Homo sapiens: one gene and its partner. The protein of the gene in region 2 purifies or fractionates together with the protein of the main gene of each other region. This does not show direct contact. Each region holds a gene or a part of one and is shown on either strand. Other genes may lie near its edges.

Region 1 (2,600 bases), on a different chromosome or scaffold from region 2:
TAAAATCCCCCAGCAATGACAAACTGAACTTGGCTGTATTGTGGGGGAAAGGATGGAAAAAGTAAATTCAATTATATATCAATGACAGGATCTTATTTAAATGTGTAATTAAAATCTCTACTTCTTAATGACATACTGGACCTAATTATGGATTTGCTATCTACATTATTAATTAATTCACATACTGACACATGTAAGAAAAGCCTAATATTGCCCAATCCAAATGACAGGAATCCAAGTTAAGTAGGATTTTAGAATTGTGTTATGTAGGTGTTGGACAATAAATGACAATGGCTGTGGGTGTTTGCTGACAGCCCTGGGGAAAGTGTTTATACTACCTAGACAAGTATGTACACAGGAAAGAAGAGCTTTCCTTTTAAAAAGTGAATACACATCTCTCTACACAAGTGGTTCTCTCATAAAAAATCCAGTTCACAGAAAGGCTTGGGAACCAAAAGCTTAATCATAAAAGGATTTCCAGAGGAAAAAAGCAAAGAATATGTAATTTCCAATTATATTTTTCTAAATCGTAATTTACAGATGCATCAGCTCAGATCCAAGCTCCTCTTGGATCCTAACATTAGAGGTAAAAACTGGGGAAAATTTTCTAGAAGACACAAAATTAGGATGTACTAAGAAGTGTCTGAAGAGAATCAATTCCAGCTTCCACAAAATACTTAAAACTAAGAGCTAGAACTTCCCCTAGCCTACCAGCAGAGCAGGTCACTTGTTAATCTGGACTGTATAGATGAACTTCAGAGGGTCTATGAACCCCTTGAAATTACACTCACAATTCTGTGCTTATGGAATGAGAAATTTCCTGAAGTCAATCTATAGCTATCAGCTGATTCATAAAAGGATCCAAGAACCAAAAAAGATTAAGAGCTGCTCCTCTATCTGAGCAACACAAGTAAGACAGCAACTGATGACCCACAGCTATTTAATACACAGCAAAAATGTGGACAGCTTTCACAGCCTCAAAAGACATTCAAAAGATAAACAACAAACATGTAAATATATTTAAATTTGTTTTTACTAAAAACAAATATTTTTACTGGAAGCTAACAGATCAAATCAAATACCTTTAGGAAAATCTAAAGCAATGTTTAAATATTCCTTCCTGCCTAAAACCTAAGAGGATTTTCTGATCTACCATGCTACAAATTTCTACAAGAATGCACCTCTATAGAAGGAAATGCAGCCTAAGCCCTTTGTAAAGAACTCCACAGCAATAATATTACTAATCAAATCTATTGCTTTTATTGTTTTTAAGTAAGTGGTGGTATATGTCATCTTTTTAAATGTTTCTTTTGGGAAGATCTTATAGAAAATGGCACCCTGAAACTTTCAGCTCTATGTCCCAAAAATTATCTTTCAACAATCTGATGAAGTTTCTTAAAGAAACTCTTAAAAATGAAGATAATATACCTGGCCTAAATCAAAACAATCTGAAAAATGGATGTGTCCCAGTGGAAAGACTCAAGTCTTTTCAAGTTTATCAGAAATGCCACTATACACCACTGTACTATAAGTCGAGGAGGATGGATATCCAAAGGTATCATTTGTTGACAGTTCCTGATGGTCTCAGGTATATCCTATAATCACTGGTTACTATGCATCATTTCTTGTAGATAAATGGTATTCATGTGATAAGCTGCCATCCAACTTGGATGTCTCTGAGCATTCCAATAATATGAATGAGAAGCGGCAGCATAATATTCTTGCCATGCCCTGTAGTAAGCTCTCCAGTACTCCTCATAATCCTGATAGGTATCAGAAAAACTCAGACGTATTTCCCTATGACAGTCATACCAATCATCTTCCTGGGCTTCAGTCTGCAATCTGAAGGAAGACCGCCTGGGTAGGTTTCTCCGGCTCTGCTTAGCTCTCTGGCTAGCCCCCTCTTTAAGTCTTGTCTTCATCTGGATTCCAGGTGATTCTTGATATTTCTCTGGATTGGGGGTGTCACTTCCATTTGGTGGTTGTTCCAAAGAAATACGATCATCCACAGGCGTAGATTCAGAGTCTTTCAGCTGATTATCAGAAGAGCCTTCCAAGTATGACTTATTTCCTTTGCTCTGGGAAGAGGTTCTTGAGCTGTAAGAATCACTGTCACTCTCAGAGTCTCCAGATTGGCTACTACTTGCCAACACAGGGACTCTCTGTTCAATAACTTTATTTCTCACAAAACCATTTTGAGGATTCACAGTCTGATCCCCAGGGCCTGTGTAGTGCCTGATGATTTCCACAGGTTTCTCTAACCCCTCTTTAATATAATGTTCATAATCCTCTACCAATTCAGCAAAAGTCAACGTGTATGGCTGATGGATTTTAAAGGAAGACAGACAAGGAATCTGGGGGAGTGACACAGGTAAAGCTTCTTTGACCTGGTGCTGACTGTTGGTGGAGTTTTCAACGGGAGTCTGAACAGAATTCTTCATTTGCTCTTCGGATTGCCTGTCACAGCCCAGTTCTTTTGGTGACGTTGCTTTTTCTATGATTCCACATTCTGAGTGGCTTTTCACAGGAAGCTTTTGTTTGGTATTATTTTTTGATTTGACTGATAGTCCAGATACAGAATTATTTCTAGAGGAAGCCAT
Region 2 (7,157 bases):
AAACGGGTGACTTTACAAGGCAGGTTAGAAAAAGCCTCACAAGATGCTAACATTTAATGAAGAGCTGAAAGCTGTCACAGCAGCAAGGAAACACACCCGGCAACGCCAGACAGCAGGCATTCTAACAGTTACTGTGGAGCATGACAGTGGGACCAATGAATGCTGCAGGGCTGGGGAGTGGACGAAGGCCAAACAACAGCTGAGCTTCCTGAAGGGCAGCCAGAGGGAAACCACCCCAGCACACTGTGTGAGTTCCCTGGAGCACTTGCTTACCCGGGGTGGGGGGGCCACAAATGTGACTAAAGGTAAAAAGCAAATGCAGCAAAGCAATGGTACCCCCAAGTCCTGAAGATAGAGAACAAAAGCTCAAAGAAGGTAGCACAGACCCAATGCCGGGCAGCGCCCCACAGCCAGCGTATGCGTGCAGCGCCCTGACGGCAGCTCTCCCTCAGGACATCACTGGTTGAGGGCTCATCTAAGTAGCAGCCCAGAGCAGAGACTCAACGGAAGTGGGTCGTGGAGTTGGGAATTAGGCTTTGAGGTACTCGAGGTCCCATCTTGGAACTCTCACTCTTTGGAAGCGTGCTTGCCTCAACAAGCCTCCATTTCTTTATCTTAAAAATGGGAGTAGCAACCCCTGCTGCACTTGGAAGCTGTGAGAAAGTCAGTAACACCAAGTACAAGCGCTCAGCAAGGAGGCACCGTCCCCTTGACGGGAGCTGTTCATTGTGACAAGGCACAGCAAGCTTCTATAGCTATGAGTGGAGGCTCTCAAGGGCACAGAAACCCTACTGAACTTGATCCATTCTTTTATTTCTTTTCTATTATGGAGAAGTTCAAGCATTTAATGGAGGCAGAGCAGTATAACGAACTCCCATGAGCCCGCTTCCATTATCAACACGTGGACGGACTTGTTTCATCCCTATCCTCCCACAGCCCACTGCATTTTTTTGAGACGGAGTCTTGCTCTGTCACCCCGGCTGGAGTGCAGTGGCATGACCTCAGCTCACCCCAACCTCTGCCTCCTGAGTTCAAGTGATTCTCCTGCCTCAGCCTCCCAAGTAGTTGCAATTAGAGGCCCCTGCTACCACACCCAGATAATTTTTATATTTTCAGTTGAGACAGGGTTTCACCATATTCACCACTCGAACCTGGATCACTCAAGTAATCCTCCCACCTCAGCCTCCCAGAGTGCTGGGATTACAGGCGTGAACCACCACGACCGGCTGGATTATTTTAAATGAAATTCCAGATAGCACACCATTTTGGTCTCTAACAAAGGCTTTTAAACATCATAACCACAGTGCCACTATTACATCTTAGAGTTAACATTTACTAATTCCTTAACCTCATCTATGATCCAGTGTTCAAATTCCTCAATTGGAACTTTTTTGTTCGCCCAATTGGAACTTACTTGTTTGTTTTTTGAGAAGGAGTCTTGCTCTTATTGCCCGGGCTGGAGTGTAATGGCGCTATCTCTGCTCACTGCAAACTCCGCCTCCCGGGTTCAAGCAATTCTCCAGCCTCAGCCTCCCGAGTAGCTGGGATTACAGGAGCCCACTACAATGCCTGGCTAGGTTTTGTTTTGTTTTTGTTTTTGTTTTTGTTTTGGTATTTTTAGTAGAGATGGGGTTTCACCATGTTGGCCAGGCTGGTCTTGAACTCCTGACCTCATGTGATCTGCCTGCCTCAGCCTCCCAAAGTGCTGGACAACAGGCATGAGCCTCCGTGCCTGGCCTGGAACTGTTTTTTTTTTTGTTTTTTTTTTTTTTGAGATGGAATCTTGTTCTGTCACCCAGGCTGGAGTGCAATGGCGTGATCTCGGCTCACTGCAACCTCCGCCTCCCAGGTTCAAAGGATTCTCTTGCCTCAGCCTCCCGAGTAGCTGGGATTACAGGTACACATCACCACGCCGGGCTAATTTTTGTATTCTTAGCAGAAACAGGGTTTCACCATGTTGGCCAGGCTGGTCTCGAACTCCCAACCTCAGGTGACCCACCTGCCTTGAAGGATTACAGGCGTGAGCCACCACGCCCGGGTGGAACCGTTTTTAAAAAGCATTTCTGGCCGGGTGTGGTGGCTACGCCCTGTAATCCCAGCACTTTGGGAGACCGAGGCGGGCAGATCACCTGAGGTCGGGAGTTCGAGAACAGCCTGACCAACATGGAGAAACCCTGTCTCTAAAAATACAAAATTAGCCAGGCATGGTGGTGCATGCCTGTAATCCCAGCTACTCAGGAGGCAGGGAAATCGCTTGAACCGGGGAGGCAGAGGTTGCAGTGACCCTAGATCGTACCACTACACTCCAGCCTGGGCAATAACAGCAAAACTCCATCTAAAAAACAAAAAACAAAAAATGAAAAACACTTTTGGCTGGGCATGGTGGCTCACACCTGAAATCCCAACACTCTGGGGGCCGAGGCAGACAGATCACCTGAGGCCAGGAATTCAAGGTTGCAGTGAGCTATGACTGCACCACGGCAGTAAAGCCTGGGCAACACAGCACGACCCTGTCCCTAAGAACAAAACAAAACACAACAAAAAAAAAAGAGGCTGAGCACAATGGCTGACACCTGTAATCCAGCACTGAGGGAGGCTGAGGCAAGAGGATCACTTGAGCCCAGGAATTCAAGACCAGCCTGGGCAACATAGTGAGACCCCGTCTCAGTTTTAAAGTTTTTCCAAAAAAGAAAAAAAAGAAGACCCACAGTGGATGTGGTTGGTTAAGATATAGACAAACTAGGCCGGCTGCGGTGGCTCATGCCTGTAATCCCAGCACTTTGGGAGGCTGAAGCAGGTGGATCACCTGAGGTCAGGAGTTCGAGGCCAGCCTGGCCAACATGGTGAAACCCCATCTCTACTAAAATTACAAAAATTACCTGGGCATGGTGGCGCACGCCTGTAGTCCCAGCTGCTCAGAAGGCTGAGGCAGGAGAATCACTTGAACCCAGGAGGCGGAAGTTGCAGTGAGCTAAGATAGTACCACTGCACTCCAGCCTGATTGAGAGAGCGTGACTCCGTCTCAAAAAAAAAAGGAGGGGGGTGACCAGGCACGGTGGCTCATGCCTATAATCCCAGCACTTTGGGAGGCCAAGGTGGGCAGATCACAAGGTCAAGAGATCTAGACGATCCTGGTCAACATGCTGAAACCCCGCCTCTACTAAAAATACAAAAATTAGCTGGGCGTGGTGACGCACGCCTGTAGTCCCAGCTACTTGGGAGGCTGAAGCAGGAGAATCACTTGAACCTGGGAGGCGGAGGGTGCAGTGAGCCAAGATTGCACCACTGCACTCCAGCCTGGCGACAGAGCGAGGCTGCCTCCAAAAAACAAACAAACAAACAAACAAACAAAAAGACATAGGTAAACTAGTTAAGACTGTGACTGTGTTGTCTAGGCAAGAGGTGACCTGGGTGGTGATGATGGACATGAAAAGAAGGGTCAGATTTGTGACATTTAGAAAATAACACAAATAGGTCTTGGTGAGAGGCTGAGCAAAAGGTTAGAAAAGGTGTTAGAAACAAACTGCATGGCAAAAAATGAGGTCATGACCGGCACAGCTGAATGTCTATGTCCCAGAGAAAACACCCAAAGGAAACCAGGTTGGTGGCGAGGGAAAACCCCTGTGGTTTGGACACTGAGTCTGAGATGCCTCTGAGGCAGGACATCAAGACAGCGTTCCGACAGCCAATGTCCAAAGAGTGCACCGCCAGATGTCTCTGTCACGCTTCTGCGTAAGCACCGTGAGGAAATCCTGCACTCCAGGATTTGGAGGAAAGGGATTCATCAAAGTTCACAGGTATAGGAGGAAAACCTGTCTTCTCACTAGAGTCATGTTCTGAGAAGTGCGTCGTTTGATGATGATGTCGATATGCCAACATGAGATGGCACTTCCACGAGCCTAGACAGCATACCTAACACTCCTGGGCTAGAGGGTGCGTCCCACTGCTCCGAGGCCAAGCGTGTTACTACACCAAATACTACAGCAATCCTAACACAATAGTAAGTATTTGTGCATCTAAACGTTATCAAAGCATAGAAAGGGTACAGTAAATAGACGGTATAATCTTTTTTTTTTTTAAGACAGATTTTTGCTTGTTGCCCAGGCTGGGTTGCAGTGAGCCGACGCGATCCCGGCTCACTGCAACCTCCGCCTTCTGGGTTCAGGAGATTCTCCTGCCTCAGTCTCCCGAGTAGCTGGGATTACAGACGCTCGCCACCACGCCCAGCTAATTTTTGTACTTTTAGTAGAGACAGGATTTCACCACGCTGGCCAGGCTGGTCTCGAACTCCTGACCTCATGATCCGCCTGCCTCGGCCTCCCAAAGTACTGGGATTACAGCGTGAGCCACAGTGCCTGGCAAAATATGATATAATCTTATAGGATCACCATCACATCCACGGTCCCCTGCTGAGTGAAACACTGCTATGCTGCCTGTGACTGTACAGTTTTCACTTTCAGAATAAAGAGCCACTGGAGGTTGACATCTGACCCTCTTATGAGTTTGGTTAATGGCAACAACACACCTGTCTTGTACTCCAATTCCTCCTCTATGTGGAGGGGATGGAACATCCTCAGCCCAAGGGTTGGGGACCTAAGGTTAGAGCCAGGACAGACCACTATCCCACAACCCACCACTTCAGCCTGTGACACCCAGCTGGGTTGTGGGAGCCCCTTAACTGTCCTCCCATGCAGGAGGAGCCCAAGGTACCAGGGGTCTCCCTTCCTGCCAACTTTTACCCTATGTTCTGCTGCTGAAAAGCCTAAACCAAAAACAGTGCTTGTGAAGTGGCAGGGGCTAAACAAATGAACTAACAACCCTGTTCCCCACAACACAGGCCTTAGGGAGACAGCAGGGTCCTGGGTATGACCTGGGAAGAATACAGAGGGTTTGGGAGAGGAGAGAGCCAAATGGTGGATGAGAGACTTACACATTTTAAGCTCTGTCTCCACTTCTTGCTGTCGCCGCTCAATCTTTTCCCGTCTCTGTCAGGAGAAAGGGGAGGTGGAGAAGTGAATGCAGATAGAAGTGCCCTAGTGTCAAGGATCATCTGGAGACAGTGGTAAAACAGGGGGTCAGGAAGCAAAAATGACATACTTTCCTCTCCATGCGCTCCTCTCGGGTTTCAGCACGAGTTGGAGGAGGGGCATCTCGAGGGTCCTGGGAACAAGAAGAGAGGTGACAGGGTGGGAAGGACTGGGGGAAATGGCAAGGGACACTCACCAAGGAAATAAACAGGTTAACCCTCCCACCCCCACCCCCTACAAAAATAAACATCCACGCACACTTCCCCTGACACAGTGGAGGGAGGGGAGTGGCACAGATCAAAGCAAGGTCTGCAGCCACGCACAGTGGCTTCCACTTGTAATCGCAGCACTTTGGGATGATGACACAGGGAGAATGCTTGAGCCTAGGGGTTTCAGACCAGCCTGGGACAACACAGTGAAACACCATCTCCACAAAAAATTTAAAAATTAGCCAGGTGTAAAGGCCGGGTGCAGTGCACACGCCTGTAATCCCAGCACTTTGGGAGGCCGAGGCAGGCGGATCATGAGGTCAGGAGATCCGAGACCATCCTGACTAACATGGTGAAACCCCACCTCTACTAAAAATACAAAAAATTAGCCGGGCGTGGTGGTGGGCGCCTGTAGTCCCAGCTACTCGGGAGGCTGAGGCAGGAGAATGGCATGAACCCAGGAGGCGGAGGTTGCAGTGAGCCGAGATCGCACCACTGCACTCCAGCCTGCACAACAGAGCAAGATTCCGTCTCAAAAAAAAAAAAAAAAAAAAAAAATCCTGTCTCAAAAACTAAGCATGGTCCATGGACCAGTACTATCTAAACTGTTGCTGGACTGTGATAAGTACAGAAACCAGGACTAAGTGTTCAGGAACTTCTACAGTAATTTCACAATTTGATGTCCACTGACTCTTAATACAAATTTGGTCTTTTATTCTGTAGGTCTTTTTTTTTTCTGAGACGAAGTTGTGGTCTGTTGCCCAGGCTGGTGTGCAATGGCGCGATCTGGGCTCACTGCAACCTCCGCTTCCCAGGTTCAAGCGATTCTAAGCCCTGCTTTCCCCCCTGTGCCCGTCTCTCTAAAAGGAACCCAGCAACTGACTAGAATCGTTCAAGCGGTTCTCCTGCCTAAGCCTCCTGAGTGAGTACCTGGGATTACAGGCACACGACAGCATGTTGGCTAGTTTTTGCATTTTTAGTAGAGACAGGGTTTCACCATGTTGGCCTGGCTGGTCTTGAACTCCTGACTGTAGATCTTTCTTTAAAAAGTAATTCTATCATATTTATCAAAAGCAAACAGATTGGAAACAGTATCTGTCCTTCACCAAAGACAGTTTGAAAAGCACTGGTACAGGTGACATCTAGCTTTATAGTATTTAGGAAACACCCTGTCTTCCATATTTAGGAAAGACATTGCTTCTCACAGCTCCAAGTATCACTCACATTGAACAAAGTGCCAGAGGATGTGATGGGAGTGGAGTGATGGCAGGGCCCTGCTTATGAGTGCCAGTGAGGATGACCAGGCCTAAAGCAACATAAGCTGACAGAACAGGGCTCCAAAGCCCACAACTGCACACCCTCTGAGGGCCAAGGCAGCTCTTAAAGGTCTCATCAACCACACATTAAATAGGAACTGGCTGGTAGGGTGCAGTGGCTCATGCCTGTAATCCCAGCACTTTGGGAGGCCAAGGCAGACAGATCACAAGGTCAGGAGTTTGAGACCATCCTGACCAACATGGTGAAACCCCGTCTTTACAAAAAATACAAAAATTAGCCAGGCATGGTAGCGCGTGCCTGTAATCCCAGCTACTCAGGAGGCTGAGGCAGGAGAATCCTTTGAACCCGGGAGGTGGAAGTTGCAGTGAGCCTAGATCACGCCACTGCACTCCAGCCTGGGCAACAGAGCGATACTCCATCTCAAAAAAAAAAAAAAAAGGTCGGGTGCGGTGGCTCACGTCTGTAATCCCAGCACTTTGGAAGGCCAAAGTGGGCAGATCACAAGGTCAGGAGATCAAGACCATCCTGGCTAACACGGTGAAACCCCATCTCTAAAAATACAAAAAATTAGCCAGGCGTGGTGGCGGGCACCTGTAGTCCCAGCTACTCGGGAGGCTGAGGCAGGAGAATGGCATGAACCCGG

The links. The genes of interacting proteins can lie anywhere in the genome.
Region 1: the proteins of SNRNP70 (region 2) and DDX20 purify together in Homo sapiens (affinity purification with mass spectrometry; 5 studies listed by BioGRID and IntAct, with this or other methods). This does not show direct contact.

The regions. Positions count from the first base shown.
Region 1 is NC_000001.11:111,765,901-111,768,500, reverse strand, and holds the end of DDX20 (probable ATP-dependent RNA helicase DDX20), read right to left. Parts: coding exon 1,602-2,600; 3' UTR 501-1,601; downstream 1-500.
Region 2 is NC_000019.10:49,088,294-49,095,450, reverse strand, and holds part of SNRNP70 (U1 small nuclear ribonucleoprotein 70 kDa), read right to left. Parts: intron 5,161-7,157; coding exon 5,098-5,160; intron 4,986-5,097; coding exon 4,931-4,985; intron 1-4,930. UniProt on the Homo sapiens protein: Component of the spliceosomal U1 snRNP, which is essential for recognition of the pre-mRNA 5' splice-site and the subsequent assembly of the spliceosome. SNRNP70 binds to the loop I region of U1-snRNA.